Homo sapiens: one gene and its partner. The protein of the gene in region 2 interacts with the protein of the main gene of each other region in a biochemical or structural test. Each region holds a gene or a part of one and is shown on either strand. Other genes may lie near its edges.

The links.
Region 1: the proteins of ASXL1 (region 2) and RARB form a complex in vitro, tested with the Homo sapiens proteins (one study listed by IntAct).

Annotation. Positions count from the first base shown.
Region 1 is NC_000003.12:25,558,682-25,574,486, reverse strand, and holds part of RARB (retinoic acid receptor beta), read right to left. Parts: intron 4,730-15,805; coding exon 4,569-4,729; intron 1-4,568. UniProt on the Homo sapiens protein: Receptor for retinoic acid. Retinoic acid receptors bind as heterodimers to their target response elements in response to their ligands, all-trans or 9-cis retinoic acid, and regulate gene expression in various biological processes.
Region 2 is NC_000020.11:32,349,847-32,366,199, forward strand, and holds the start of ASXL1 (polycomb group protein ASXL1), read left to right. Parts: upstream 1-8,484; 5' UTR 8,485-8,929; coding exon 8,930-8,986; intron 8,987-9,139; exon of another isoform or gene 9,140-9,167; coding exon of another isoform or gene 9,168-9,391; exon of another isoform or gene 9,392-9,461; coding exon of another isoform or gene 9,462-9,488; exon of another isoform or gene 9,489-10,005; intron 10,006-10,863; coding exon of another isoform or gene 10,864-10,960; intron 10,961-16,353.

The DNA of each region.
Region 1 (15,805 bases), on a different chromosome or scaffold from region 2:
GTTTACAGAACCTGGGCATGTGGCTCGAAAAAATGACAAGACATTTATGATGGGGTGGAGAGGAGGAGAGCTGCACATTCGGCACGACTCCTCTGTGCCGGAAACTGTGCAAGGCGCTCCATATATTTTTCTCATGGAACCCTCCAGGCAGGAGGTGGATGTTTTTAAAACTCCCATTATACAGATGAAGGAGCTGAGGTGCAAATGATGATGTAACTTTCCAAAGTCACATGACTCCTAAGTAGCAGGGATAAGAGTTGAGCTTGAATTTATGAGGCCCTAAAGCCCAAATGATACTCACTAGGGTTCACCCTAAGGAAGCGGAGAACACGTCCTCAGAGCGAGGATGTTACCTCTGGTTCAGTCCTGATTCTATTTTGGAAAGCTCATCTATAAATAGCTTCTCTCCTGCTTTCCACCTTTCCACAGGGAATCCACCCTCTCTCCTTTTATGGCGGCGGAGGGTCATTGGGTAGAAACCTTCCCAGGGATACTAGCTCTGAAGATTGTGGGTGAGTGCCCTGCCCTGGCCTGAGGTGGGGGTGGTGGGGATATGTTTCTGCCTCTTCCAGCCATTCCTGCGGTCTCCGGGGACCCAACCATTTGTCCCAAATCCACCCTAATTAGGGAAGAAAAAGGAACTACTCTTTCAAAGATCTGTAGATGCGCAGTTGGCTGCCTTTCTTATTCCTCTCTGCCCACTAATTCCAAAGGCATCTGACAGGGATGCCACTCTGGTGAAGATGACAGGAAGTTTCCTGCCGTGGAAGCAACTGCCTGTCTAAAAAAAGCTCTTTTTAAAAATGCTCAACTCCGAACTAAGAGCTTGCAGAGAATGTGTTATGGCTGCTGTTATTTATTTATACCACCGACTTCCAGAAAGGATTTTAAGTGGCTCACAATAAAAACACAGCTAGATCTGGGGAGAGATAGTACAAATGAAGAGCACGGTCAGCTGCGAGACTGGCTCAGAGCGCCCTCCACCCCGCGGTGGGCAGCAGGCCTCCGGAAGGATGCCCAGTAGTGAAGGGCCACGCTCTAGAGATAAAATCGTGTTTCTGTTTTTCTGCCTGACTGGGAGGTACAAGAAGTCTCCACAATGTGTTTAGGAGGGTGGGCCCCAGTTGAGGACTGGGGGTGACTCACCCCCATATTGGGGTGGATAGGAAAGGGCCCTGGAGGCCTGCAGGGAAGCCTCTCTCTCTTAGGCCAGAAGCCGAGGCTGAGACTAGAATTGGAATGCACGATAGTTTATGTGGGAGGAGATCCCAGGAAGCACTGGAAGAACAGAGTGGGCAGGGAAGGAAGGCGGCCAGCGGAGATCATCACTGTGGGCAGTCAGAGCTCGATCTAGTTGGGAAACTCTGGGACGTGGTTTAGAGGATACCTAAGAGTATCCTGCCCAACGAATAAGGAAGCTGGGGGGGTTTATCTCTCCACGTTCTGCTCATCAGTGGTGAGGGACCGCTCGCAGGAGTGGCAATGCCTCACATGTGAGCCATCCTGTAGGAATCCCGGTCACACCAGGGCGCATGTTCCAGGAGCGGCAAATGCTGTACGTTGTGTTTGTCCTGCCCTCCTCCAGGTTAGAGTGGGAGCTGTTTCACCTGATTACTAGGTGAGTCAGGGTCTGGGGATTGACTTGGCTATGCTAAGATACCACCTGGAGGAGGCGGAGGGGGACCCTGATGTAGCAGTTACTGGCCCTAGGTATTGCCATATAAAGTCGCTCACCTCATGACCTGGATCAAAAGTCTCCTCTTTCAGGAAGACCTCCCCACTCTCATCTCTTTTCCTCTGACTTTCTTGGAGCTACAAGATTGATTTATTCCTGGGTCACAGCTCTCTCCTCCTAGCTAGATGCCGCCAATGGCCCCAGCTTCCATTCTCCCTTTTTGGCAACCCTCTCAAGGGATTCTGTGTATAGTATACTGGTTAAAAGAGCTGCCCTGGAGTCAGACTGTTTAGGTTCAAGTCTCACCTCTGACCACTTGTTGACTAAGAGACAAGGGGAAAGTTATCGAGCCTTTCTGTACCTGGCTTTTGCATCTGTAATATGAGGGCAACGAAACCCAAATCACAGAGTCCTCATAAGGAATAAAAGAATTAGTATACTTATAGTACTTAGCATGGTCCCTAGTACATAGTAAATGCTCAATAAATATGAGATGTAATAATGATTACAATGATAATAATAAAGATTTTTGACCACAACCATCAATTACTGTTCATTATTTACAGACTCCTCAAGTGGCACTCAAGACTCCGCCAGGCTTTTCCCATTCTCACTTCCCACTTGCTCTCAACTCAACACAGTCCACCATTGCACAGCACCTGTTTTCTCTCATCTTCTCTTTTCGCCCCTTCCCACTGTGCCAGCCTGAGTTCCCTCATTTCTTAGGTCAAGACGCCCTCACCTTGATACACAGCTCAATACAGGGCCTGAAATGCCACTGAATGGTTGGCAATTAGTAAGTATTTCTAAAAGAAATAAATGGCATACTTTCAGGTATTGGTTATTCATCATGTTACTTTTCTGTATTGTCAGATGCACCCAGCATGGGGGCCAGGTCTCTGGAGGGTCAGTTAGTATCCAGTAGAAGGTACGTGTCTGGATGATGTTTCTGCCACTCCACTGCTGGGTAGATATTTTTGGGTTCCATCACAGCAGCTTTTCATAAATTGTCTCATTTCATCCTCCCAACTATTTCACATTATTCCCATTTAGAGATGGGAAAACTGAGGCTGAGAGACGTTAGGTAATTTGTTCACCGTCATGGGGCTGATGGTGGCTGAGTAGGACTTGAAGTACATTCGTGTGGTTCCAGGCCTCTGTTCTGGATACATGGGGTCACATTCCACTTTCTCTCCCAGGTGAAAATGAAAGCTCCCTTACAGTGTCCAGTCTTGTCCTGGCCTGTGTCCCTGCTCTGGGATGGGACAGTGTTCCCCAAACTCAGTGAAGACTGGTTGAGGTTAAGCCGAGACTCTCCCTCGGCCTGGCAGACATGCCAGTGTTTCTCCTGGCTGACACCAATGGGCGAGGTGGACCCCAGAGTGCCACCCTGGGTGTTGCTTCTCAAAGCCCGGCTCATTTGCTCTTCAGAGTCTGGTCTGCAGACCAGCAGCATAAGCAGCCTGGCAGCTTGTTAGAAATGCCCCTAGGCCATGCCTGCTGCACCAGAACCTGCACTGTAACGAGTTCACCAGGTGCTTCAGATGCACGCTGAGTTTTGAAAAGTACTGCTCAAGGTTCTACCTCTGCTTCCAGGTGAGCCAAAGTCTCTGAGCTCAGCCAGGAGACTTGTCTGTTTAAGGTGGGTGCCAGCCCTTCAGAAGCTGGTGCCACCCAACTGTGTAGTCTCATTTTCATCTGAGAAGCCACCTAGGTTTGTGCTGGCCCCAGATTCCATGGGCGCCCCTCTGGGCCTGCTCCTGGTCACCATTATTGTGTTACAGATACCACCAACATCCTAGCGCACTACACCCCATGCTCACCAAGAACTGCTCCAAAGCCCCGCCGCTCACTGTTTTTTTTTTTTCTTTCTGGTATCACTATTTTGTCTTTTGATCTTCAGGACCTCCCATGCTATCATTTTTCTAGAACACCATTCACCAAGCCAGCAAGTGCTACAATATTTGGATTTTGTTTTTAAAGTATGTTTACCATAGCATTGTAGGTGAGCAACCTAAGCTTTTTAAAGAGGCCAGAACAACATTCTAGTTGTATTAATTCATCAAATATCTACTGAGTGTCTATTACATGCCACAAGTTAGAAATATACATCAGTGAACATAATACATGCAAAAACCACTTGGAAAAATTAAAGCACCTCATGACCCCTCCACTGGCACAACCTAGACCAGCCAACATACACCTCCTACCTTTTTATCTCACTTCTCTTTTTCCTGCCTCTCTTTATTTCCAATCTCAGTGAAAGGCCATTCCTAGTGGAACGCTGGGAAGCAGAGGGGGAACATTCACTCAACTGGGCATGGGGCATGCCTACCCCAAACTTTTCTAGGCCCTGGCTTGGGGGTTTTGTACATGTCCTCTCACAGAAGGCAAACCTTGGCCCAGGGGATGGCCTCTTTATCTTGGTTGGATTTCACAGATGGATTGGGGTTTTTAAAAGATCAGGCCCCGTCCCCCTGGGTCCCTCCGTACAGAGGTCCGTCATGACCCATGTAACGCTTCACTGGCTTTACTTGTTTCCTTCACCAGATCAAAGTCTCTGAGAGCAGCACTGAATAGTTCATGTTGCCAGGGCTTAGAACACAGCCTGTCGTATAGCAAATACTCAGTTAATGCATCTAGAGTGAATGCATGTGTGCATGACTGCAGTGAGGCGGCACTCAGCCTACTCACTGATTGCCCACGCCCAAAGGCTACCTCACAGAAAGAAGTGGCTACTACATAGCCCCAGCTGGCTAGCATGCAAGCCCCTGCCAGGCCCAGTGCAAAGTGTGTGTGTGTGTGTGTGTGTGTGTGTGTGTGTGTGTGTCTGCACACATGCACGTACAAGGTTTCCACACTCCCAGCAGCCTGGGGCAGGAGTATCTCTTACCGTGGTGTATTTACCCAGCTGGCAGAGTGAAGGGAAAGTTTCCTGGTGAGCTTTTCGGATCTTCTCTGTGAGATCGTCCAACTCAGCTGTCATTTCATAGCTCTCTGTGCATTCTTGCTTCGAAGTCTCCTTCTTTTTCTTGTTCCTGTCATTCCTGACAGCTGGAAACGAGAGAGAAGGCACATCAGGGGTCGCTGAAGGCTGGGCCTGTGCTCCTGAGCTGGGAGGTTCCACCTCCCAAGGCTGCCTTAAGCTCATTTGATATTTGGGACAGAAACAGTGGGAAGAGGTGGTAATAACACACCTCCCTGGAAAAGGGATTTGGCAGCCGCGGGACCCCGGCAGAGAGCTAGGTTTGTCTTTCTGTATATGCATGTGCCCGTCAGTTGTTTGGAGAGCTTGGGCTCACCCAGGAGGCTCAGAGTCTTGGCTTGTTGTGAGAGAACTTTTTCTGTGGACTGGATCTCTTGAAGAGAGAAGGATTTTTCCAAGAGCTTTACCCTCAAATGGGATGCCCTGAGTGACATTGTAAGGGAAGGGTCAGGTCTCTGAACAAAGCCCCGTTACTTCATAATTAGTATTTCCTAGCTACACATTTTGGTGTCTTTGCTTTTTAGTTTTCTGAATTAAGTGACAGGCACTTTTGAAGAAACTCATCTGAGAGGAGATAAGGATGATGGTTTTTGTCCCTTCGTGTTTTTCTGCTTTCTAAACTTTCTGTATGAACCATATTATCTGTTTTGGAATATAAAATTACTTAAAAATAATAATTGATACAGTATGAAATCTTCAGCCTGGAAAACCATTCATTCCCTTATTCGCTGGTAGCCACTTGACTCCACGTTGTGTCTGGAACACTGGACCCACAGCAGGTGTGTGTCCTTTCCCTCTGCATGCTCCGAGCCAAGCACGGTGCCAGGCACAAAGTCAGGGCCCAGGACACAGTGCTATGGAAGCCCGTGCTTCCTCCTGCAGCACAGACCTCTGGGATGACTTCAAATCCGAGTGTAACTCAAAGCTCTAGCCCCTGGCTAGGATCTCGCGAGGAAAGAAACTGAAACCCAGGGAGGCAGACAGGCGAAACAGACCATGCCACCCCCTCCAGGGAGTCCATGTTCTCTGGGGCCCAGCGGGTGCCAGGCTGGATGCTGCCTGGCTGTGCATGCCACCACTGTGACCTGGGAATCTGCACTGCAAAATGACCCAGGGCATAATCTGATCTGCCCTAAGAGGATCTGGCCTGAGTTGCCTCCCTAAGAGCACACGGGTGATTTGAGAACTGGCAGTTCCCTGGGTCCACACCATGAGAATACCCATATTTGGGGTAGGAGCTGAGGGCAGAGTAAGACAATAGCAGGAGGAGAGAGGAAGTGGTGAAAGGAAAGAGCAAGGGGTGAGAAGGGGGAAGAAAGGAAAAAAGGGAGGTGAGTCCTACTACAAAGTCAGTGTCTGTACGAGCCACTCCTACCTAACCAGGAGGGAGGGCAGCTGGGGAGACCAGGAACATTTTTTTGAGTCCCTTGAACATGGTATCACGGTATCTCACTTGATCCTTTTATCAGGTAGGCAAGTTTAAACCCATTTTACAGATGAAGAAACTGAGTCTTGGAGAAGCTAAGAAATATGCTCAAGTTCACGTGGTTGAGAAGTTCCTTCCTCACTTGGACTCACTTACTTATTCCTAAGGAAACCAACAGGTCTGAAGAGAACACCCTTCTAGACAGTTTCCTTCCCCCAGGACTCTGAAATGACACTGCTCATTGGCTCAGAAAATTTCTAGATCACTGGTGAAATGAGTGGGAAGTGCAGCCTCAGCTGTATTCTTTCCCAGTGCAGACTGGCCCCTCGAGACCTCTGTGACCCGATCCCTCCCAGCCGGCGCAGGACGCTGGGTGAGAGTGGGTATCATGGTTCAAAGCAGAGAGAATGCAAAGAAGCCGGCGGGCAAAGGAGACACAATGAGGGGGAAAGGGGTCATGCAGGGTGGCAGAGGCGGCATGGTGGCTCTCCGTGAGGATGGAGTCTGGGCTGCTGAGGGGAGGGAATGCCTGAAGGCTTGTGTGTGAGTGCGCAGGATCTCAGGTGATCAGACCCCCCTCTTTTCCTCGGCCTCTGCCAATGGCCTTCCTTAGCTAGTGAAAAAGTCAAATCTAAGCAGGGAGGGTCCTTCTGAAACAGAGCCCCGAGGAAGAGTACTCGGCAGTTTTTCTCAAAGTTATACGCAGAGGTACCATGTGACGCAGCAATTCCTCTCCTAGGTGTACACCCAAGAGAACTGAAAATATGTGTCTATGCAAAACTTGTCCATGAATGTTCATGACAGTGTGACTCACGGCAGTTGAAAAGTGGAAAGAACCCAAATGTTCATCACCCGATGACGGGGAAGTGGAATCTAGGACGTCCTTATGGTGGAATATTATTTGTCATAGAAAGGAATGAATTATGGATGCATACTACAACACAGATGAAGCTTTCACACATACGCCTTAAAGAAGCCAGTCGCAAAAGGCCACACATTGTGTGATTCTAAATTATATGGATGTCCAGAACAGGCCAATCCAAAGACAAAAAGTAGACTCGTGGCTGTCAGGTACGGGGGCAAGTTGGTGGGGAGGGAGGATCGGGAGTGCTAACGGGTTCAGGGTTTTGTTTTTTAGGAGATGAAAATGTTCTGGACTTACTGGTGAAGGCTGCACAACTTAGTGGATCCACTACGCACCGCTGAATGGTACAGTTTAAAATGATGAATGTTATGCTACGTGAATTATATCACAAAACAACACCAACAAAAAACCCAGAGCCCTGTGGGAGGTGACACATCGCTAAATACCAGGAACTGTTTGAGTCGATTCTGAAGCTGAGATGACACCTACAGCTACATTAAAACACAGCAGCAGCCTCACTACCCTTTAGTGATTGTGTGGCAAGGGCCACTGGGCATCAGCAGGTGAAGAATCCTAGCTCGCGAAATCCCCACAGTAAGCCAGGTGAGGTGGGCCTTATGACCCCATTTCTACACTCAAGGAACTTGAGGCCCAACAATACCATGTTTGAAAATAGTCAACCCAATGTGCAGAAAGAGAAACCACAAAACAAACTAACAACCCACAGAAGGAGTCCCCATAATCCCATCCACAGGGAAGTCTGCAGGACCTGTGTCTGCTCCTAAGCATTCTGCTTCACTGTCCCCATCCACCACCAGGGGCCTGGAAAACTCAGACGAGCAAACCCAGCTCTAGAGGGTTACCAGGAGAGAGGAGACACTGTGAGCTGTCACCATGAAGTAACTGAACCAAGCAAGAAAGGGAGGGGTGAGGTCCTGTGGGAAGGGGCCCTGGGTGAGCTGCAGCTGGGCACCAAGTTGGGCATCTCTGTTGGGTTGTGCAGTGATCACACACGCCGTTTGCAAAATCACAACTGTGAAGCCAGAGCACCATTTTCTGTGCTTTGGGCCCAATTTGGAGCAGCCTTTGCAGCTCACTCGAAGGGGAGCAGTGTGTAACCTCAGGCTACTTTCCACACTCCTTTTGTCCCCTACGTGAAGTCCCACCACCACTGTCTATGTGAATAAAGGACTCCTGGGATTATCACAAATTCTTCCACACCCACAAAATGCAGGGACAACCCCTCTGGTGATGATGCCCCAATTACATACAGCTTCATAAGTTGACGGACAAATTTTCTAAACACGTGGCTTCAGCAGCTGCTTCCCTCAATGGTTTTAAACTCTAGAAGAACGCAGACGCAGTGTTTGAGAAGGGCTGCCAAGAACCACCAGAATCATGGAGGTGACACAGTGCACAAGAAGCCACGGGGGCCTAGGGATGGTAGCTTTGTCCAAGTTCTTGGGACTATTGGTCCCTTTGAGGCCTCGTGGTCAGTGGCTCCTGGGGCAGTGCAGGGACTCGTTCCCCTGGAGGCCAGCAGTGGGAGGCAAGGGCGATACAAGTACTGCAGGGGAAGTCAGGAGATCTGGAACTAGTGCTAGCTCCACCACTTACCACCTGGGGTCAACTCCAGAGGAGACAGCTCCTTTCAGAGCCTCCCCCGAGATGGCAGTAGCACCTGCATGGAGACACACAGATGGTGGGCTTGGTGGGAAGGAGGTAGACTACTGTAAAGGCCTATGTGGGTTAGTTATGCAGGAAGAATGTAAGGCCCTTCCGTGGGGGAAATGGATGACCTAAACACCAAGGACTTGTGGGGATTACTGTGGGGCCTGTGGCTGTCAGTGGCAGAGGAGACTGATATGAAAAATGGTGCTTGGAGAAGCCATCGCAGTGGCACCAAATGAGTGGGTGGATTCATTTGTTCCTTCATTGTTTTGTTCATTCATTCATTCAATGAATATTTATTGAGTATCTACTATGTGCCATCGCAAAACAGGATGGTTGTTGCTACCATGGAGCAAAAACTTATGGTAGCAGACAGACATTCATCATACAATAAAACAGTGACAGTAATAATAATAATAATAGAATATTGGCATCACTATTATTACATGTACTGCAATTAATATACGAGAGTATTATTTACCACAATACTGAAAGTGTTCATTACAACTATCATAAAGCCTTCTATTCATGGTAGGCCATTCAATCCTTACAACAACCTAATAGAGTAGATATCACTATTATACCCATTTTGCAGATGAGAAAGTGGAGGCACAGGAAGGTGAGTACCCTGCCTGAGGCCATGCATCCTGTGAGTGATACAGTCAGGATCAGAACTTAGGAAACCCACTGTGCTCCGCTGCGTCTGAGTCTACCCCATGTACACACAGTCCACAGCGTAGTGAGTACAATGAAGGATGCTACAGGGAGCTGTGCCTGTGTATTACTGGGTGTGGCAGGGGGATCCTACTGGTCCTAGATTAGGAAGCTAACGCTGGGGAATTGGGAGGGTAAATTGAGGGATGCTATGGGATGGTGGGTGGGGAGATGACTCTCTTCTCTGGGAGCGTGGGGTGTGCATCTGATGCTCAGCTCCAAGGCTGCCTGGGATGTTTGATGGTGGACCTCTTCTTTCACTCTGATTGCGACTGACTGGTATATGCACTCATATACCTATGCCAGACCTGGGAGTTTGACAAGCTGCTTTCAGGTACGGTGCACCTCTGGGAGGGAATGGAGAGGCAAAGAGAGGAGCAAACACTGTCAAGCCTGCATCAAAGCCCTCCCCTCCAAGTCTGTGAATATCTGAAAGGCAAGGGCCACATGTTACTTGTCTCTATGTCCCCAGGGCTTAATACAAGATCCGACCCACAGATGGGGGCCTCAAAACTGTTTTGCAAATGATAAGGTAGACATATAACTAAATGTGGTGTTCTGTCCACTGTCAGGGCCTATATGTGGCAATACAGAGTTCACCTGAGCCTCTTTCTTCCAGAACTTAAAGGTCTCACTATCATGTTGGGGTCTGCGGGGGAATCACTAACTGCTCTCCACCCCTACAGTAGTAGCCAGAAGGTTGATGAAGCAGGTGGGGCATTCAGGGGGTCACAGATGTGATTTATACACCTGATAGAACCCGGCCTGATGTTTGCAAAGCGCTTCTTGGATGAAAGGTGCTCCATAAAATATCAAGTATTCTCCTTGTGAGGGGCTAAGTGCTACAAATCAGATTTGGTGGCATAAAAGTAACATATTTATGATCCACTATCATATTGCAAATGAAATGAATGTAATAAAAGTGTCACTTATACAAATACCTCTGATGTACGGATCTCGACCTATGAATATGAAAACAGACACCCAAGCACTTTTATTTGAATGTCTAATCATGGAAATAAATGAAGTCATGTTCATTTTAATGTGTGCACTTGTGCATGTATCTGGAATATTGATTTTCAGGCACACAATAAAAATTTAATGCAGGAAACATGCAAAAGATGTAGATTCACTTGGATTCAGGAAGAGATGAAAACAATGCTTCACTAAAAATCCTTTCACATCAAAAAAAAAAAAAAAAAGGAAAATACAATTGATGGTATTTTTGTCCATAAAGTTCTCTATATTCAGCTTAGCAAAGGAAGCATGATGGTCTATTTATTCTTGCTTGAAAATTAAAGTCTGGAATTTGTTCATCTTGACTCTTCAGCTCCTTGCTAACTGCAAGAATAATGAGTTACAGTTGGTGATTAGAACTATGGGGTTGTCATGAGTTGGGGATGACCTGTAACTAACACACTGATATATTTAAAAGAAAAACATTAAAACATGCTTTAATTTTAGTTAAAAAATCATTTTCTAATCTCATCATGTAAACGAGCTACCATGGATCTGAAGGCAGGTGGATCTATTACTAATTGTTAGAGACTTACTTTTCCCACAACCTAAGGATTTAATTCAAGCATTTAACATAGCACGTCCCACTGTAAACTGGGGAGAGTTGGGGTGAGTAAACATTTCTTCTACATCAGAATCTGCCTGAAGGTGGGGACTGTGTCTTTTTCCTAATAAAGTGCCTGCCATGTGAATTCCAGTTGAAATTGGAACAAATATACAGAGAAAAAAGGTCAGTGAATGAGGCTGCAGCTAAGTTTTCTTGCCACTCATGAGACATGTGCCTTTTGGACCAGGCTGAGGGTAGGGTGCCGAAGAGTATGTGTTGAATGAATCAAGTTATTCCATTTCCAGGGACTTTGATTTCAGGGTTTGTAAAATGGAGGTCAAAATGGAATCCTAAGAGGACTGCTCTGAGTCTGCAACATGTAGCATATGTGCAAGTACTTCAAAAGGTGACAGGAGGCCCCTACAACCTCGAAGTCTAAGAGATGACCTGGTGTCCATTGTGCCAGCAATTGAGCAAGGAGCATGCTTAGAATTTTTACAGAATATTGAAGTCTTGGGGGAAATTAGTCTGGACACAGCATTCTGAGAGTTTAATATGATCTTCCAGCTTAGCTCAGCTTCTTAAAATTATTCAAAGAAGTTATAGAAAATCTCTGAAATATCAGAATATACAGACGTCAAATACTTCTTTGTGGTTAAAGTGGTATGTTATGCTAATGAAACTTTCAAAACAAATTTAATCATATTTCCCTCACTGGTTACTTTTTGATATGCAGATTTTACCTCTTCTTGTGTGGACAGTCTTTCAAATACTTTTTCCCTCCTCTGTCTGGGCTGGTAAGGGCAGCCCTACTGTGGTCGCATTCATTTTCAGACAAGCACGGTGTGGTGCGCGTCCTTGCAAGGCAAGAGATTTAGTTTTAGATGAAAAATCCTTTTCTTTGGACATATGAGCTATAAGAAATATCCTAAGTTCAATTCCAGAAATGAGAAAAAAGAAAATGTTCTGGCTTAATGTATAAAAGTAGGAACTCAACAGTGAGTAGTTGAGGGATGACATGAACCCCTGAGATGCTTTCCTTCATACCCGGCGGTGCTTCTTTGTACATTTCCTCTGGCAGCAATGGGCTATTCTCAATGATTACTTTGCCTAAATCCTGTCCAAAGAGGCACACGTGTCTGTGGCTTCGTGTTTGTGACAGAGCTACCCAATATGAATAAGAGCTGAGATGAAGCCTTTTATTTATGGCATAAAACTGAATGTTAAAAAAAGGAAATTAAAGACACTGTGGCTGGCCCTCTGCTTTTTAACCAGGAATAAACTCACACACTTACTGTATGATCAATTCACCTTGTTTTTAAAAAACCTCTGATCTAGAAAAAAAAAAAAGGCTTAGTATCTCTTCCATAATCAATTTTCATAGGCAGGAAATTCTTCGCTGTGCCAAACTCAAGTTCACTTCTGCTGAAGCCCAAGCTGCCCTCGTGTATCTGAAACACTGTGAGTGGGTCTTTTAACTTTTTTGAAAAAAGGCTGACAGTCTAAGGTTCAGGAATCAATAGTCTTCAAATAGGGGTCCCATATATCTAGGGTAAAAAAGTTGAGCAGGGTAAAAAAGTTGAGCAGGGATACAAGCACACTCCTTTATATTTCTTTCATGGAATAGGCATAGACTGCCTTTCAAAAACAGAATCTGATGAAGGGCAGGAGGGCAAAAAAGAAATTTCCCAGCAACAGACTGTTCCAGATAAGCTTGTATCTTGCTCTGTGTCATGTATATTCTTTATAACAAGTTATGGGCTTTCAAATATTAAATAACAGTCTCTATCATGATAAAATATAATGGCCGGATCTTTCATTTCTACTGTCTTTTAAAAGCCAATACATTTTTAGCAAATGAACTGAAGTTCTGCTTGACATTTTCATCATACATTTCCTCTTAAAATGTTATGTAAAATAGAAATGAAGTTTTTCTCAGCTTAGGAAAAGAGAAGCAGAAGTCCCAAGAGACCATAAAGAGGACAGCCCAGTTGTTCCAGCCAAGACCACACTAGATCAATCTGGAGCCAGCTTGAACCTCGGAAAGAGCACAGGTAAGATCAGCAGAGTTGCCTACCCAGTAGAGAGCCCAGTGAACCCAGAAGTACAACCCGACTGATCCATGGTGCTGTGAACAGTAACAAAAGCTTATAGTTTTAAGCCACTGAGCTTGGGGGTAGTTTGTTACACAGCAATAATCTGTGTAATACAGTCTGTGTAAAGAGTGTTTTTATGCAACAGTAACACGTGCCCAAATGCCTTTTATGCTACAGGATATTTGAATACATGGTTCCCTCTATTCAGCATTTGAGGCAAGAAAGAAAACAATTGGTCATTCCTACCACTCAAAGATCCCACCCACATCTGTTACAACACACAGAAATTATGGCACTGTTCCCCATAGGTCTTAAATAATATGAAAGAAACAATGGACAAATGGAAGGACCCTGGGATAAAATTTCAAAGGCCTGCATTTTAGCTCGTCATTTATTGTACTAACTATGTAAGCTCAGGATAGTCTCTTAATGTCTCTGAGCCTCAGTTTCCTTATCTGAAAAATGAGGACATCAGTTTTTGTTCATTGCACACAGGATCTCATATATATTTAGATATATACATGATTGCAACACAATGTAACATGAACAAAAATAGTGGGAGCCCTATACCAATTTGTTTATTCACCAAACATTTATTGAGTCCTGTAGCCACTAAAGAAACAGAGTCAAATAAAGCATGAGGGGTTCTCCCTTCAATAAATGAAATGCACATGATATATAATATAGAATATAAGGATTTAATATACACAAAAGCTTTGAGATGTGAAATGCTAAGGCAGCAGTGGAGGAAGGAAGGTAGAAAGAAACCAAGGAAGGAAAAAATGAGGGAGGGAGGAAAGAATTTTTATCCAAGATGAGACCAGCATTCCAGCCTGGTGCTCTATAACTAGAGATTAAAGGGAAGACAGAGTATGGAAACTGTCAGTTATTAAGCTTCCAGTGGGTTCACCTCTAATGTTAGGACTGTCTGTCTGAACTTGGCTTAGTGAACATTTATGGCCACGCTCATGTCCTTGGGATTCAACGTTTTCTGAGATTGCTTAATATACGTGATGGATTTCTGCCTGAGCCATCCACATGTCAATAAGACATCTGAGAGAGATAGACAAATGGCTTATAATTTTGCCAGATGTTTGCCAAATACCGTTAAGATATTAATGTAGAGAAGCTCTTTCATGTTGTCAATTTTAGAAATCCAAATCATTAGAGAAATGGTCTACATGTAGATATAGGTGTTTATATCACATAGTTAGTTTAAATGAAAAACCTCACTTTACAGCATTTCAAATGGTTTACGCCAGTCTATATACCCCTAAGTGATTCTTAATGAGGTCCTGGAAATGCTAAAGTTTCTAAGGATCTTCAGAATCACCACATATAAATCTTGTTCAGTATAGCTTTTGTTCTAAATGCATTCTATTAATTTTTAGAAAATTGGCAGTCTATGTATGAGATATATGCTAGCCCACTGTTGGATATGATTAGTCAATTAACTATAACCTTCTTTCCTAATCATTATAGATCTGAACAGTGTCTTATAACTGGGAGTGTTTTTCATCCATCCATCCATCTGTCTATCCATCCAAATAGACATCCAAGAAAGAATTGCCTGTTTATCCAGTCCTTCTGTCTACTCATTCATCCATGCATCCATCTGTCCATCCTTCCAACTATCCAATGCAGCTGCCCATTCATCTGTCCCATTTTCCATCCATTGATCCACCTATCCATCCATTTGTCCATCTGTCCATCCTTTCATCTATTCATCTGTCCATCTACTTGTCTGTCTGTCTATCTATCTCTGTCCATTCATCAATCCATCTATCTTCCTATCCATCCATCGATCCAACCAATTAACCATCCACCCATCCAACCATATATCCATCTATTTATTTCTTCTTCTGCTCAAATAGTTATTGAGCACTTACACTTTGTTTGCCATTATGCATGTTAAAGACACAAGAGTAAGAAGGTATCATTTCAAGAGATTCACATTCTAGTAAAAGACACAGTCATCTAAAGAAATAACTATCATGCACTGAGCTAGATGTCAGAAGGGAGATATTCATTCTTAGACTCAAGCAATATGAATTCAAAACCTAAGGGACAGGTTGTAAGATGGTACTGAGACTCACAGATGAGGAAGCTGATAGTTTAGCCTGTGGGGCCATAGGGAAAAAACATCTCAGAAGAGAGGAATCTTGAGCTGAATACCCTTATAAGAATATGCTAGGTCTTATTCACTCAGAAATCCTCAGTGCACAGTCCAGTATCTTCTCCATAAGGAATGTTCAACATATATTTCTTAAATGAATGGGGCTTAGAGAGGCTAGGAGACATTCTGGATGAAGGGACCAATGTGCGCAAAGGCCTGAGGGTTGGAAAAACGTGGCTACATGATGGAATTTAGGTTTGCGGTGGCCTTTAAAGGATGGGGTCTCATTCAGGAGGCCAAAAGGGGAGGAAAAAACATTCTGGATGGGGGAGATATGAGAAAATACTTCCAAGAATGACTACATCATGTTTGAAGGGGAGTGGAGTGGCTGGTGTCACTGAAGAAAAATGTGGAGACAGGGATTGATGGGGAGAAATAATGAGGACAAAGAGAAGTGGGGAGATATAGTGAATCACCGCAAGGAAAAATATGCTAGACTTGGCAACAGAATGAAAATGGGGATGAAGAAGACGACTTAGAGGTAACAATAAGGTTTTAACCCCGTATTGGGCTACTGATGGTATCAAAACAGAGAAGAAATGTAGGGTAGCTGGTGGGGAGTAGGGAAGCCAGTTTCTGGCAGGAATATGATGAATTTGGTTTGAGGGGGCATGAATTAGGAATCCAGAGGC
Region 2 (16,353 bases):
CAGGCTGGTCTTGAATGCCTGGCCTCAAGCAACCCTACCACCTTGGTCTCCCAAAGTGCTAGGATTACAGGCATGAGCCACTGTGCCTGGCCCTCATCGCACCATTTTCTAATGGAATTATTAGTAGTACATTAAAAGTTATTCATTTTTGAATGCTTATTTTGCACCCAAAGTGACTATAATTGTTGAGTTTGGAACTAATTTCTCCCCTACCTGGTGTCAGCTTTCAGACATCCCCTTCTGTCAACTCTAACAGCACCCCAGGCTTCTATCTGCTAGGGCACCTACTACGTTGGCTTGCCATCATTTGTAATCCATCTGTGTAAACACAGGAACTGTGTCTATCTAGGCTGTAAGTCCCCAGGGCTCAGCACAGGGCTGGCATCCCAGTAAGAGGCTATCAGTGCCAATGGAAGAAGGTGCCCCATGCTGTATTACTGTTGTTTTCTGGGATAGAGGAGTCTTTCCTCTAGGATGGAGAGCAGAGCAGTGAAGAAGCAAGCAGTCCCTTACATCATCTGGCTGACTGTCTAATTTGGAGTAGACATTGAAGTCATCATTAATGTCAAGAGTGAATTAGATTTTTCATTATATGTTGAAGAACGCATTGAGTGGTATGGGAGGATGGACGGCTTAATGAATGTAGGAAATCAGGCAAAACCTTGCCAAAGAAATGACATTCAAGGAGACATCAAGGGTGACTCTGCAACCCTGTCTTGCTTTCCCTGCCCCAACTGCAGACCAGTCTTAGCACCCAGTTCTGCTTGAATGAATTCATTCAGAAAACGTTGACAAACACCTGTGTCAGGGCCTCTGCTGTTGGGTCTGGGGCCACAGGGTTGGGTAAGAGCCAATATATGAGCTCAGATCATAGCTCTATTGAGCTGGTTGTTACAGGAGGTGGTCAAGACTTTGCTTGGGATCTGCCCAGCCCACCTTTCTGGCTTTGTCTCCTGCTCCTGCCCCTCTGGACTGCTGGCCTGTCCCCAAGTGAACACACTTGCTCTTTCACACACAGACCCATGGAGACCACTCCCTATCATACTCACTGGCACTTCTACCCAGAATTCACCTGAGCCACCCTCTTTCCTTTGGGCTTTCAAGGCCCAGCTAAAGTATTAGCTCCTCTGTGAAGGCTGCCCTCTCGGAGTTTGTTGCTGCCTCCTTGTCCAAAAGGACCTAAGATAATAGGTTTTAATAATGTGTACAGTTATTTATTTCCATCTCTAAGATCCCATTAGACCAGGGGCCCTCGGAGTCAGTGAGCTTGTCTTTGTGTTTTTGCTGGGACCTAATACACAATGGGTCACTCAGGAATTGCAATTAAAATGGGTCCAGAGAAATGTGACCTGCAAGAATAAAGGGATAGGGCAACCCACTCTGGTCCCCTTCCACGCTGTGGAAGCTTTGTTCTTTCGCTCTTCACAATAAATCTTGCTGCTGCTCACTCTTAAAAAAAAAAAAAAAAGAATAAAGGGATAGAATGCAGAAGGAAGATGAAGATGTAAGGACAACTTAACTTAGAGCAGTGGTTCTGAACCCAGGCCTCCAGGAAGGCAGAACGGCAAAGGGGCAGAGGATGTGAGCTGTGTAGTTGAGGTAGTTGGGTTTGAATCCTGGCTCTGGCATCTATTAACTCCATAAACTGGGACATGTAGTTGTATTTCTTGGGGTTTCAAGAGGGGCCAGGAATACCTTGGAACACTATAGAGAATTTCATATAAATAGGTATAAGTTTTTCTGGAAAGAGAGTCCATTGCTTTTTAACAGGCTTCACAAAAGGTAAGCACCACTCAGAAGGGGAGACACTGTCTTTATTAGTTGTCAATTGCTGTGAAACGAATTACCTCAAAATCTAGTGACTTAAAACAATCAACATTTCGGCTGGGCACGGTGGCCCTCACCTGTAATCCCAGCATTTTGGGAGGCTGAAGTTAGGTGGATCATGAGGTCAGGAGTTCAAGACCAGCCTGGCCAACATGGTGAAACCCCACCTTTACTAAAAATACAAAAATTAGCTGGGCCCGATGGCAGGCACCTGTAATCCCAGCTACTTGGGAGGCTGAGGCAGGAGAATTGCCTGAACCCGGGTGGCAGAGGTTGCAGTGAGCTGAGATCACACCACTGCACTCCAGGCTGGGCGACAGAGTGAGAATCCATCTCAAAAAAATAAAAAACCAAAAACCAAAAACCAAAAAAAAAAAAAAAAACCACCACCACCACAACAACAAAAAATCAACATATCATGTCTCGCTGTTTCTGTGGGTCTGGAATCCAGCTTATGTGGATGATTCTGGCTTGGGGTCTTTCGTGAGGTTGTAGGCAAGATGTTGGCCAAGGCTGAAGTCATGTGAAAGTTTGTCTGGGGCTACTGTCGTATAGACCTCTCCAGAAAGCTGCTTGAGTGTCCTTATGACATGGTGGCTAGTTTCCCCCAGAGCATGTGACCTGGAACAAGGCAGAGCTGCAATGTTTTCTCTGACCTAGCCCCAGAAGCCACTTATGCTCATTTCCACAGTTACAGAGTTCAGCCCTAATCAAAGTGGGAGGGGACTAAAAAAGGATATGAATGTGAGGAGGTGGCCATTTCTAAGGCTACCACAGTGCCTTAGAAAGAACTTGGAATGAGGAGCTTGGGGTTTAAATGTTGACTCCAGCAACAACCAATTGTGCAATCTTGGGAAAGTGTCTTTTCTTTACTGGCCCACTTTTCTCATTCACCTCGTATGATGGTTTTGGAATTCAAGAGTTAAGTCCTGTGAAAAGCCATTTATATAAGCCCCCAACTTCACATTTAGTTATTAGAGGAAGAAAAGTCATTTAGGGTAGGGTGTAAGTTGATGTTTTTATTATAAATCATGGGAAACAAAGAAATAACCCATTCACCGCTCTCATCACTTGGGCACACCACCCGCTCAGCATTTTGATGTTAAAATACATTTTAAAGGTTCTTTTCCTTCTTTCACAGAGGAAATAATAGAGGAAATGGCTTAAACTGAGGCCAGAAGCATTATGGTGGATGTGAGTAAATCTCTGCATTATTAAGAGAGATTAAAAATTGGGATGGGTACCTTATTGAGGTCCTGAAATCTATACTTGAAAACCTTAAAGCATCAGAGAGCTGCCATTTTCCGTGATTTCGGTAAAAAGCAGCTCAGGTTATCCTTCCTTTGAGGCCATTCTAGGGGGTCCCACAAATCTTTTTAAGCAAAATAAAAATATTAATAATTATTAAAGTTGTTTTCACATTGTTGAGGTATATTGCATTAAGAATGGAATTTGTTTTTCCATCATAAAAGTAGCACATACTAATTCTAGGTTTTGAAAATACAAATATAAAAAAGAAAAAATATTACCCATAGCTACTACCTTAATCTAAATGTTCTATGTTTTGCGGTTGAAATGAAAAAGAATTTTTTTCAATTAAAAAGTGTAATATGGGCCGGGCGTGGTGGCTCATGCCTATAATCCCAGCACTTTGGGAGGCTGAGGCAGGCAGATCACTTGAAGTCTGGAGTTTGAGACCAGCCTGGCCAAACATGGAGAAACCCTGTCTCTACTAAAAATACAGAAATTAACCTGGTGTTGTGGCACATGCCTGTTATCCCACCAACTGAGGTAGGAAGATTGCTTGAACCTGGGAGGCAGAGGTTGCTATAAGCCAAGATCATGCCACTGCACTCCACCCTGGATGACAGAGCAAGACTTTATCTCAAAAACAAAAGGTAATATGTCCATGGCTCACAACTGTAATGCCAGCACTTTGGGAGGCCGAGGCAGGAGGATCACTTGAGGTTAGGAGTTCGAGACTATCCTGGGCAACATAGCGAGACCCTGTCTCTACAAAAAATTTAAAAAAAAAATTAGCTCGGGGTGGTGGGATGTGTCTGTGGCCCTACCTACTCCTAGCTACTCAGGAGTCTGAGGTGGGAGGATGGCTTAAGCCCAGGAGGTCAAGACTGCGGTGAGCCATGATCATGCTACTGCACTCCAGCCTGGGTGACAGAGTGAGACCTTGTCTCAAAAAAAAAAGACAATCAAAAGTTGCCATAGTCTGATGGTTACCCAGAGGTAACCATTATTGACATTTTGTTGCCAGGCACAGTGGCTCATGCCTGCAATCCCAGCACTTTGGGAGGCTGAGGTGGGAGAATTACTTGAGCCCAGGAGGTCAAGGCTACAATAAGCTGAGATTGCACCATTGCACTCCAGTGTAGGCAACAGAGAGACCCTGTCTCAAACAAACGAAAAAGACATTTTGGTAATTTAAACACGTTTTCCTCCCTACTGGGAGACTGAACAGCAGGATTTAAACGATGGTGAATGGAAGGTGAGCTATGAGTTAGGGCTGCCCATCACATGGGCAGATTCTGTGACTTAATGACAATAATAAGGTCATGAAGTCTCCTATACAGGGTCTTGCTCTGTCACCCAAGCTGGAGTGCAATGGCGCAACCATGGCTCACTGCAGCCTCAAACTCTTGGGCTCAAATGATCCTCCTGCCTCAGCCTCCTGAGTAGCTGGGACTATAGGCACATGCTGCCACGCCCAGCTGAAGTCATGCTCTCTATCCATGAGCATCTTTATAACTTGCATAGATATATTTGGGTGAAATCCTGTCTTGGTCTTTCCCGATTCTCCCTGAGCAGGTTCCAAACATTGTTTAGGGCTCAAAGGGAAATTAGTCTTCAGAGTTTCTCCAGTAAAGTAATTACGGAGATCGGGTCATTTATTCAACAGATTGGGTGCCTACCATGTGCCAAGACTGTGCCAGGCACTGGGGATATGATGATGAAACCAAAGATGCTAGCATGAACACAATCACTAAACCAAAGTCACACAAATAAATTAAATGTGGGAGGGACAAGGAGAGCTATACATGTACTGATCATCTGCTATGCTGGAAGTTTATTTAGCAAATGTAATCTTATTTAATCATCTGGACCCAAGGGAGGTAATCTGACCTCTCTGAATCTCAGCTTCATGTGAAAACGGGGATAATATTATTGAGAGAGAACATTTGTTACAGGGGCAAACCCTGTTCCAAGGTTTCTTTCACTCAAAGTATAAACAATGAGGCACTTTTTACACTTTAGACACTAAAACTTTTTGGAGGCAAAGAGGGCTGGTATTTAGTGAGTATCTGCTATGTGCTAGGCACTTTACAGAGATCTCATTTAATCTCAGTTCCATTCTTTGAATTTGCTATGTACCCTGCTGTCCAAATGACGGCACTGAGTCAGTGAGAGGTTTCATAACTTGCCCAAGGCCACAGAACTGGATGGAGAAAGACTGCAGAGATTCAAACCCAGGCCTGCTGACATGCAGAGCCAATGAGAATATATTATCTTGCAGTGCAGTTTATGGGATATATGTGTCCCTTTGGGAATTCCTGGGTGTCTGCTGGTGGCCTGTTAACTTGGTTCTTGAATATGCACTTTGCTTATAACTGTGCAGTTTGAAAAGTGACTCATCCCCAAACTAGGCAGGGTTGAGTGTCTGTCCTGTTTATCTTCCACATGCCACCTGCACTAACTTCTGAAGATAATCTATAATAAAAGCACTGTGATTAAAAAACAGAAAAACACACACCAAAAATGTATAGGTTTGTCTGTTGGTGCTTCTGACAAGAAAATAAACTCATGAATCTCATTAACTTTAAAAAAATCACATCTACTTAAGGTTTAATGACTAAAGCCAACTTTCTAACATATCTGTACCGTTCTCTGAACATACTGTTTTCACACTTAACTACGATGTTGTCACTTGTTTCTGTCTGATTCTGCAAGGGCAGAGACCTTGAAATATTCAAATCTGGATTCCCCCATGGTTTGACCCAGCTGAAGTCAGGCAGTGTTCGCTGAAAGAAATAAAGGTGTTTCCATAATGCCTGTATTAGCTTTCTTTTGGGGCTGTAAGAAGTTACCACAGATTTAGTGTCATAAAACAATATTCATTTCTGTTTCACGCTTCTTGTGGGCCCGACGTCTGGATTCCATGGCTCAGCTGATTCTCTGCTTCCAGTCTCACGAGGCTGAAATCAAGGTGTCTATATTCCTTTCTAGAGAGTTGGGGAGGGGGTATAATCTGTTCCCAAGTTCATTCAGCTTGTCAGAATTCAGCTCTGTGAGGTTGTAGGACTGAAGTCCCCATTTCCTTGCTGGCTCTTGGCAGGACTTCCTCTGAGCTTTTGGAGGCTGCCTGGATTCCCTGGCTTGTGGCCACTTTCAAAGCCAGTAACAGTGGGTTGAATTCCTCTCATACTTTGAATTTAATTCCTCTGCCTCATCTCTCCAAAACATCTCTTTTGCCTCCCTTTTGTGCTTTTAAGGGTTCATGTGATTACACTGGGCTCACCCATATAATACGGAATCATCTAATTTTAAGGGCTTTATTTCCATTGGCAAAATATCTTTTGCCAAAGAATGCTGGCTGGTAATCCCAGCACTTTGGGAGGCCGAGATGGGTGGATCACCTGAGGTCAGGAGTTCAAGACCAGCCTGGCCAACATGGAGAAACCCAGTCACTACTAAAGATACAAAAATTAGCTGGGCATGGTAGCGCATGCCTGTAATCTCAGCTACTTGGGAGGCTGAGGCAGGAGGATCGCATGAACCCAGGAGGCGGAGGTTGCAGTTAGCCAAGATCACGCCACTGCACTCCAGCCTGGGTAACACAGCGAGACTCTGTCTCAAAAAATAAATAAATAAATAAATAAAAAAGCAACATATTCACAGGTTCCAGGGACTAGGACTTGGACAGTTTTGGGCAAGCGGGGAAGACATTATTCTGTCTACCACAGTACCTGTATTAAACATGTAAATTTCAGTTATTCCCTGTAGGTCAGAGGGCAGTAAAGCTACTTCAGAAGACATCGGAAAGAAGCCAAATGACTTGCCAAAGAGTACTGTATCAGCCGTAGATTGAAAAAAAAGAAGTTAAAAATCCTTTGTAAAAAATCAAGGCAAACAGTTTTTTGAGGGACAGTAGTTCCTCCTTTCTCTCAGGGTAAAGCTAGAGAGATTTTTAAGAGGTGTCTTATTCTAACTTGCAGTCTTTTCCCTTTGTAGGATTTTGCTTACCGGACTCACAAGTTTTCTGTGACCAGTATTAGAAGCAGAAAACACTGAACCCCTTGGCGTTAGAGTTTGGGCTACACCATAATGGTCTCCTATCAATACTGGCTCTCGCTACGTGTTAACATTAGGGAGTGGAGAGTGTGTTTCCTCACCCAGGGAAACCGTTTAAATGTGGCCACTGATCCTGCCTTCATAGTTTTTAAGAGCTGGCATCAATCCAACTCCGGACGGACTCTAGAAATGTTTCTGGACAACGACTGAACCTATAGTTACAGAAAACCTATGTGCTGGGCGCTCTGAATTTCATTTCAGGTTCTAAAACTAAGGCTCAGAGAGGCTAAGTATATTGCCTATTGTTTCTCAGCTGGTAATAACAGCTACCATTTATTAAACATTTGCTCTATGCCAGGCGCCATATCATACGGACCTGATAATGTCAAGATCTCCCTTCACATCCTCTTCCAATCTGTCAAGAATTGTATGTTAATTTTAATTCCAATAATGCCATGAAATACAAGACAAATGCAGATCAGAAAACTGAGGCTCAGAGAGGTTGAGTGGACAGCCAGGGAGTGACTCAGCCAAGATTCCAGTCTAGGTCCGCTGGACTCCAGGGCCTGAATTCTCTCCAGGGTACTGCCTCTAAAAACGCCCTCAGGTGCATTCTGGTCAGTATGGCCCCAGAGTCCAAGTTCTTTACACGACCCGTCAACATATCACCAAGTTCCTAAGAACGCTCTAGGCTGCTGGTGCAGGCTCTGCAAATACACAGCGGCCTGAAAGCACAGGAAGAAATGAAGAACCGTCTAAGTCCATCAGCCGTGGAATAACCGTTTTACTGGTATGAGGGTCTTTTTGTCTCATTATTATGTGGCAGTGAGTCATTTAGAGGTGACCAAAAGGGAAAGTCCTGCCTCTCGTCCCCTACGAGAAGTGTAGGTAAGAACCGTTTAGGCGAGGAGAAGCACGAAGTGGGAACTGCGAGTCGAGCTCCCCATCCTCACTCCCCACCCGCACCCGCCAGGAGGTCCTGAAGCAAAAAGCACCGAAGGGGTTAAGGGTGGCCGGGGGAGCCCAGCCACCGCCCCTTCCCAGCATCGCCTCCCAGAATCCCGCAGGCCCCCAGCCAGTTCTCGCACCTCGCGAGACTCCACCCAGCCCCTTCCCCGAACAGCGACCCGTCCCCGTTCCTAGCTGAGGTCGGTGCTAGGCGGAGGACGCGAGAGGGAGAGCGGAAGGGGGCCGCCGGGCACGCCGGGAAGTGTGGTCCACGCGCTTCACGCGGCCATATTCTTCCGGAGCGGGGGAGGCCAGAGAGGCCGTTGGGACTACGACTCCCAGGCGCCCTTTCGGTTTGTTTTTGTTCAAAAAAAAAAAACCCCACACTCCCCCTCCTCACTCTTCACACACACTCACACACACCCACGGCAGACACGCACGCACCCGGGCGCCGAAGGGAAAGCCGCGTCTCGCCCTCCCGCCCCGCCGTCGGTCCTGTCTCAGTCCCTCAGCAGAGCGGGAAAGCGGAGGCCGGAGCCGTGACCTCTGACCCCGTGGTTATGCGGAGCCGCCGCATTCCTTAGCGATCGCGGGGCAGCCGCCGCTGCCGCCGTGGGCGACTGACGCAGCGCGGGCGCGTGGAGCCGCCGCCGCCCCTCCCCCACCGCCGCTCTCGCGCCAGCCGGTCCCCGCGTGCCCGCCCCTTCTCCCCGGCCGCACCCGAGACCTCGCGCGCCGCCGCTGCCACGCGCCCCCCCCACCGCCGCCGCCGCCCCAGCCCCGCGCCACCGCCCCAGCCCGCCCAGCCCGGAGGTCCCGCGTGGAGCTGCCGCCGCCGCCGGGGAGAAGGATGAAGGACAAACAGAAGAAGAAGAAGGAGCGCACGTGGGCCGAGGCCGCGCGCCTGGTGAGGCGGACAGCCGAGGGGGGCTCCGTGGGGCCCGGGGTGGGGGGGGCTCGCCGCGCACCCCCCCACTGGGGGGGGAGGGGCAAGGCCCTGCCCACCGCGGGAGGGGGCGGGGCCATCTTCCTTTAAGAACGGGACAGCCCCGCAAGGCGAGGGGTGGGGAGCGCTCCGCCGGGATGGGATGTGGCGCCTTTTTCCGCTCGCCCTCGCGCCCCCCCCGCCCCGCGCAGCTAAATTCCGGCGGAGGGGCGAGCTGGCAGGCCGGCTCCTCCCACTCTGGGCAGCGGGGTCCCGCGTCCCCTCCCCCACTATTTGGCAGCGTCTGGGGGTCTGGGGCAGCTTCGTTCATTCACCCGGGGGAGTTGGGTTTCCGGGAAGGGTCGGAAGCTCCTCCCTCGCTTCCTGGTGGGTAATGGGGTGGTGCCTTTGACTCCGGGGGTGGAAAAGCGACCCCACATTCAAGGACGCCAATGGCATGTTGAGCTTTCCCAATCTAAACCAGGTGCGTGGAGGGAAGCAAGTGCTTACTCCCAGCTTGAACCCTGAGCAGCGGTTCTCTAACTTTAGTGTCCTGTGGGCGACACCTGGGAGGCGGTTAGGAACGCTACTCCTAGGGCCCTTCGTAAGACCTGCTGAGCCTCAGGGTCTGGGATAGAGCCTGGGAATCTGCGCTTTCACCAGCTTCCCAGGTGATTCAAACGCAGTGGCTCACGGACCCCACTTTGAGAAACGCAGACTGGGCTGTTTGCCTTCAGAAGCTGGACTGGAAATTGGTATTTTGAGGAGAACTGAATCCACTTTGCAAAGAATGTATGTTGGACAAAGACAAAGTATCTCTGTTGGGAGACGTTGTTCACTGAGGATTTAGCAAGGGAGAGCGTAACTTGAGTGTTTGAAGCCGTCTCGTTCAACCGATGGGGGTTGTGAATTTTGTGTTCAGAGCGTCAGAGGACTTGCAGGTGAAATAGCTTCCTTTTGGATTACTCCCACAAAGCTCAGACACTTTGAGACATATTCGGGTAATTATCTGCTGATACCAGTAGTAACAGGTTATACTAAGATGTCAGTTCCTAAGATCTGTCACACAGCGAGGTTGTGGTGCGGATAGCATAAGTGTCTCTTGACACTGTAGTTTATATGTAATGGTTGTAATTCAGTTTTAATGATGAGTGAAGCTCAGACTTAATTTTCTCTCTTATTTTGAAGTGAGTTTTCTGCTTCAAAGGTGTTGTGCAAAAAAAAAAAAAATAGACTGTATTGGGGGGGTTGACACAAACCTGAAGTACACCTTTTTCTTTCTCGAAGTCTGTAAAAGTTACAGATTTATAAAAACTGAAGGAATTTGGGCTACAGAATTTTCATTGGTGCTTGCTATCCTCTTCCCTAGTCATTTGTTGCCCAGGGAACAAAAATAGCAATTGTTTGTATGCTGAAGTTTTGTGCTTCAGTTTATTTTGGCCTGGCATGTGAAGTTTGAAGATTTTGAGGTTCCGAAATATTTTTTTTCTGATTGAGTCAAAATTGGAAGCTTGGGCTAGTTTTCAGGATCTTGTAGAAATTTCAGGATTTCTCTAACGGTTCTGCACCTGGAAACAAATATAGGCCTGATGGGGAGTGGGAGAGAGCTCTCGTTCTCCTCCTCGACAATGAGTTTTGTGTGTTCATTGACATTCTCCTTGGCGTTCCTGTTATGCGGGTGTTTATGACCCTGGGCACCCAAGGAAATTTGCTTGCCAGAGTTTTACTTGTTAGAGGTAGGTGAAAGTACTTTTAAGTCTTGTGTTATTTATGTCTTGACAGAATTATGAAATCTGTTTGTCTCAAAGTTCTGTTGGCTCTTACTAGTTGACTTTAGGAATTTGGGGTCCACTGTTAAGTCTCTTTAGATTCTCGAATTTACCGTGGTCTGAACTTCAACATCGAGGTTGCTATTTCTGTTTTATCATTGACTCAACTTCAAGCCAGGTTATCAGGGTAAGTTATTCCTCTTTTTCTTCTAAGGCTCTTCATTAAAAATAGTAATATGAATAGGAATTACTTTGTTTGTTTGTTTTTCGTTTGTTTGCCACCACACCCGGCTAATTTTTTATTTTTAGTAAAGATGGGGTTTTTCCATGCTGGTCAGGCTGGTCTCGAACTCGTGACCTTAGGTTATCCGCCCACCTTGGCCTCCCAAAGTGCTGGGATTACAGGCGTGAGCCACCGCGCCCAGCCTATGAGTAGGAATTACTTTGTGGTGCTGTTATACATGTGAAAAAGGATTTGCGAGACTTTGGGAGTCTGAGGTGGAATAATCACTTGAGGCTAGGAATTCGAGATGAGCCTGGGCAACATAGACCCGGTCTCTACAACAACAGCAACAAAATGAGCTGGGCATGGTGGTACACACCTGTGGTCCTAGCTACTCAGGAGGCTGAGGATAGCTTAGGCCGAGGAGTTGGAGGCTGCAGTGCCCAATGATTGATTGTACCACTGCACTCCAGCCTGGGTGATAGAGGGAGACCCTGACTCTAAAAAAATAATGAGGCTGGGCGCTGTGGCTCACGCCTGTAATCCCAGCACTTTGGGACGCCGAGGTGGGTGGATCACAGGGTCAGGAGTTCTAGACCAGCTTGGCCAACAAGGTAAAACCCAGTCTCTACTAAAAATACAAAAATTAGCCGGGTGTGGTGGTGCACGCCTGTAATCCCAGCTACTGAGGGGGCTGAGACAGGAGAATCACTTGAACTTGGGAGGTGGAGGTTGCAGAGAGCCAAGGCCATGCCACTGTCCAGCCTGGGTGACAGAGCAAGACTCGTCTCAAAAAAAAAAAAAAAAGAAAAAAAGAAAAAGGACTTGTTGAGAATGTGATATGCAATTTGAGTATCTTGTGTGTGTTTTTTGTTTTAGAATTTTCCATTTCTTTGAATGGGACTGGATGGTAGGTGAGGGGGAACTTTTTAAGAGTCCCAGGCCGGGCACGGTGGCTCACGCCTGTAATCCCAGCTCTTTGGGAGGCCGAGGCAGACGGATCACCTGAGGCCAGAAGTTCGAGACCAGCCTGGCCAACATGGTGAAACCCCGTCTCTACTAAAAATACAAAAATTAGCCAGGCATGGTGATGGTGCATGCCTGTAACCTCAGCTACTCGGGAGGCTGAGGCAGGAGAATCACTTGAACTCGGGAGGTGGAGGTTGCAGTGAACCCAGATCACACCACTGCACTCCAGCGGCGACAGTGAGACTCTGTCTCAAAAACAAAACAAAAGAAAAAACCAGTCCTCTTAATGTTTAAAAAAAGTTGCTGTAACACTGTACTGGAGAATTTGTGAGAGCGTACACTGGACTGAGAGAAACTTGACTAGGAGGGAACGTAGGACAGTTGATTAGAACACCTGAACACTTCTCTTTGGGCAGGTGAATTTGGAGTGCTTGCAATGGCAATTGTATGCACTTCCATGGGAACGCTTTCAGATTGCTCCTGACCCCACTCAGATTGGTGACTAGAGTGTTACTGGGAATCCTTTTAAAAATTGTTTTTGTAGGCTGTGCGCGGTGGCTCACGCCTGTAATCCCAGCACTTTGGGAGGCCGAGGCGGGCGGATCACGAGGTCAGGAGATCGAGACCATCCTGGCTAACACGGTGAAACCCCATCTCTACTAAAAATACAAAAAATTAGCCAGGCGTGGTGGCGAGTGCCTGTAGTCCCAGCTACTCGGGAGGCTGAGGCCGGAGAATGGCGTGAACGCGGGAGGCGGAGCTTGCAGTGAGCCGAGATCGAGCTACTGCACTCCATCCAGCCTGGGCGACAGAGCAAGACTCTGTCTCAAAAACAAACAAACAAAACAACAACAACAAAAAAACCTTTCGTAGAGGAAAGAAGATTCTTAAGAATTTCAGTATAGTGTACCCCAGGAGATTGATTTTTGCAGATGTTAATTATGCTGTTGAAAAATAGTCTTTCTTTCACACATTTTGTAGTATTGTCTTTTCTAGGTGTAAGAAGTAGACCTTATGTGGTTGAGTGGATATAAATCCTCCAACTTGTTATAAACAGTTTGTTTGGGAGAAATAGCCAAGGGGATTTCCCTTTAAATCGAGGACGCTAAATGGATTCTCCCTGGCTTCGAGAAACTCTTTGTTGTATGCTTTATCTTTTACTTTGATTCATGACTGACCAGTTCTTACATCAAACATTTTTTTCCCCTTTGAAGTAAGAGAAGAGATACTTAAAAAAAAAAATGTAGTCTAGAAAGAGACTAGGAATAGAACACTGCTGACTTGTTCTTATACCAAGAGCTGGAGGCATAAACAGTTTTAATAAAAAAGAATACTTTGTATCTTTTGATGTAACTTCCCTTTAGAGATTCTGTTTCCCCTGTCTTAAATTCTCAGGCTATTTCTGATTGCTGTTTAAATAATTGGTAGTTACTATTTGAGTCATGCTTCTTAAAAAAAAAAGATATAAAAATTCGCCAGCTCAGCTTTCATTTAATTAGTATCAAAGAAATGTTATCTGTGGCAGTGAACATTAGTAGCTTGTTCCAGGGTTTATTGTAGGTTTGTTCAAGTCAGTACTGCCCATCTTGGCACTTAGGTTCTTGGAATACAGAGGTGGATAAGGTTTGCCCCTCAGGGCTTATGGTCTTCTGGGGATGAAGAAGGTCCAGACGCAGGAACAGAATTTTACTACAGTCATGATACGTGTTATCATAGTTGTATAAATCATAAACAGATATCCCAGTTGCTGCCTCTTGTCTAGTCATAGTTTCTCCTTTCACTCTCAACTGTCCTGGTTTGGAAGATAATTGTATGTGTTATGAAACAATGGGAACATTGAAAAGAGACATTTACCTCTGCCTGGCAGAGATCAGGGAAGGCTTCCTGGAGGAAGGTGCTTTCTGAGCTGAATCTTGAAGGGTAACTAGGAGTTAGGCCAATCACAGAGGGCATAAGCAGGAGCTGGTGACAACACATAGCAGGAGAGAAAGAGTCAGAGTGGGTGAGAGGGAGTGTGTGTATTTGCAACGTGTGGGAATTAGGTATATCTACAAATTATTGGAACATAAAGTTTGTAGAGTGTCACTGTGGATGGGTAGAGAGGCAGAGACCAGATTGTGAGGGTTCCATATGCCAGGCCAGTGAGCACCTACTCTGTGCCAGACATTGTAGGCATTACTTACATTGTCTCTAATCTGTCCAACAACTCGAGAGGAAGACATCAGTATCCTTCAAAAGAGAACCTAGGTTCAGGTTGGGTTGTAATTGCCCCAGTTTAGAATGTAAAAATTTGAATCTAACTCTAGATCCTGTTCTTTACCGGTGGGCCAGTGGACTTTGGAAGCTTCAGCTTTTGCAGTATGTGATTAAGGAGCTGTTGAAGGATTTTATTTGCTTTCTATTATTATTATTACTATTTTTTGAGACAGGGTCTCACTCTGTCACCCTGGCTGAAGTGCAGTGGTGCCATCACAGCTCACTGCAGCTTCCACTTCCTGGGCTCAGATGATTCTCCCACCTCAGCCTCCTGTGTAGCTGGGATTACGGGCATGAGCCACCATGCCCATCTAGTTTTTTGTATTTTTTTGTAGAGACAGGGTTTCACCATGTCGCCCAGGCTGGTTTTGAACTCCTAGGCTCAAGCAATCTGCCCACCTTGGCCTCCCAAAGTGCTGGGATTACAGGTGTGACCCACTTTACCCAGCCATATATATTTTTTAAATTCTTTAAAGAGATGAGGTTTCACTGTGTTACCCAGGCTGGAGTGCAGTGGCTATACACAGGCACGATCATAGTGCACTAGAGCCTGGAGCTCCTGAGCGCAGCAAGTGACCCTCCTGCCTCAGTCTCAGCTGAGACTATAGGTGTGCACCACCGTGCCTGGCCTGTTGAAGGATTTTAGAGCTGAAAGTGATGAGGGCAGGTTTGCTTTGCTGGGTTGACCTCAGTCTATAACATGTAAGTTCTACCAGAGCAGGGATTTGGTCTTGTTTACTGTGAATCCCTAGAATTGTGTCTGGCACAAGGTACGTGTTCCATGTGTTTGTTGAATGAAGGATGACAACAGAGTCAGAATGGATTTGAGGAAAGCAGGACTGGATGGAGGGATAAATATTAAGAGGCTGTTGTGTTGGGTCAGGTAAGAGACTGGTTTTGGGACTTGGCGGACAGATGAGCGAGAAAGATGACACCTGCGTTTCTGAATTAGGTGATTATACAGGCTGTCAATCAAGGTAGGGAATACAGGAAGAAGAGTGGGTCTGGAGAAGAGGTGAATTAGAGTTGCCAATTAGATGAATTAAGAGTAGAGCTGAATTAGAGTAGATAATGAAGGGGTATAGTCAGTACACAACTGAATATTTGAATCTGAAATTTGGGGGAGAAGTCAGAGCTAGAGGTAGAGATTAGGTAGTTATCAGAATTTAGGTAGTAGCTGAAACTGAGATGATAATGTTACCCATGGAGAATGGAAAATCTGAAAAGAGAAGCAAAGAATAGGACCATGGGAAATAGGGGTTTTATTTTAGTACCTTCTCCAAACCTTGACTTTGGTGCTGAGGTCTTATGTTCTTCCATAGAGAGTACCTTCCGCAGCAGACCTATCAGACGAGATCGGGCACATTCAGGGTGGTATGGCTGTAGACAGCAGCATCGTATCAGACTTCTTTATGTTTTGCTTGTGACAGCAGTACTTGGCTATGGCAGTTAAATGGACTGTAAGATGTTAGCTTGATTTGGAGTACCCTGAGTAGCTGCACAGGTAGACAAAGTACAAAGATATTGACAGCTTTTTTCTTCCTTTAGAAGAATAACATATCTAAAACAACTCTTAAAGCAAGAGAGCTGCAGTTGCACACTAAGAAAATACTGCAATACTGCCATGACTTGGTTATAGGTGATGCTAACATAAATGGGATATTCTGTTTCTCATTGCACCAGTCATGCAGAATCATAGCATCATGTGCCAGATGGCAGAACGTACTGTGGCAGTTAACACCACAAATTAACAACACAGTGGCAGAAAGCACCGTTTAAAAATATGGGTACTTGGCCAGGCGTGGTGGCTCACTTCTATAATCCCAGCACTTTAGGAGGCTGAGGCGGGCAGATCACCTGAGGTCAGGAGTTCGAGACTAGCTCTAGTCTCTACTAAAATACAAAAATTAGTGTGTGTGTGTATATATATATACTAATCAAACTTCCTTGGGAAAGAAAATGTGAATGCATTTCTGTGTCATACATTTCTTGTGCAGCACTATATATTCTGTGGTTTAGCAGTATTAACAGCATCAAGCTGAACAGTAACCAGTGTTGCTAAGGTCTCGCATACTATACCATGTATGCTGAGAAGATATGCATCCTTAGAATTGAGAATTAGAACATTTCAG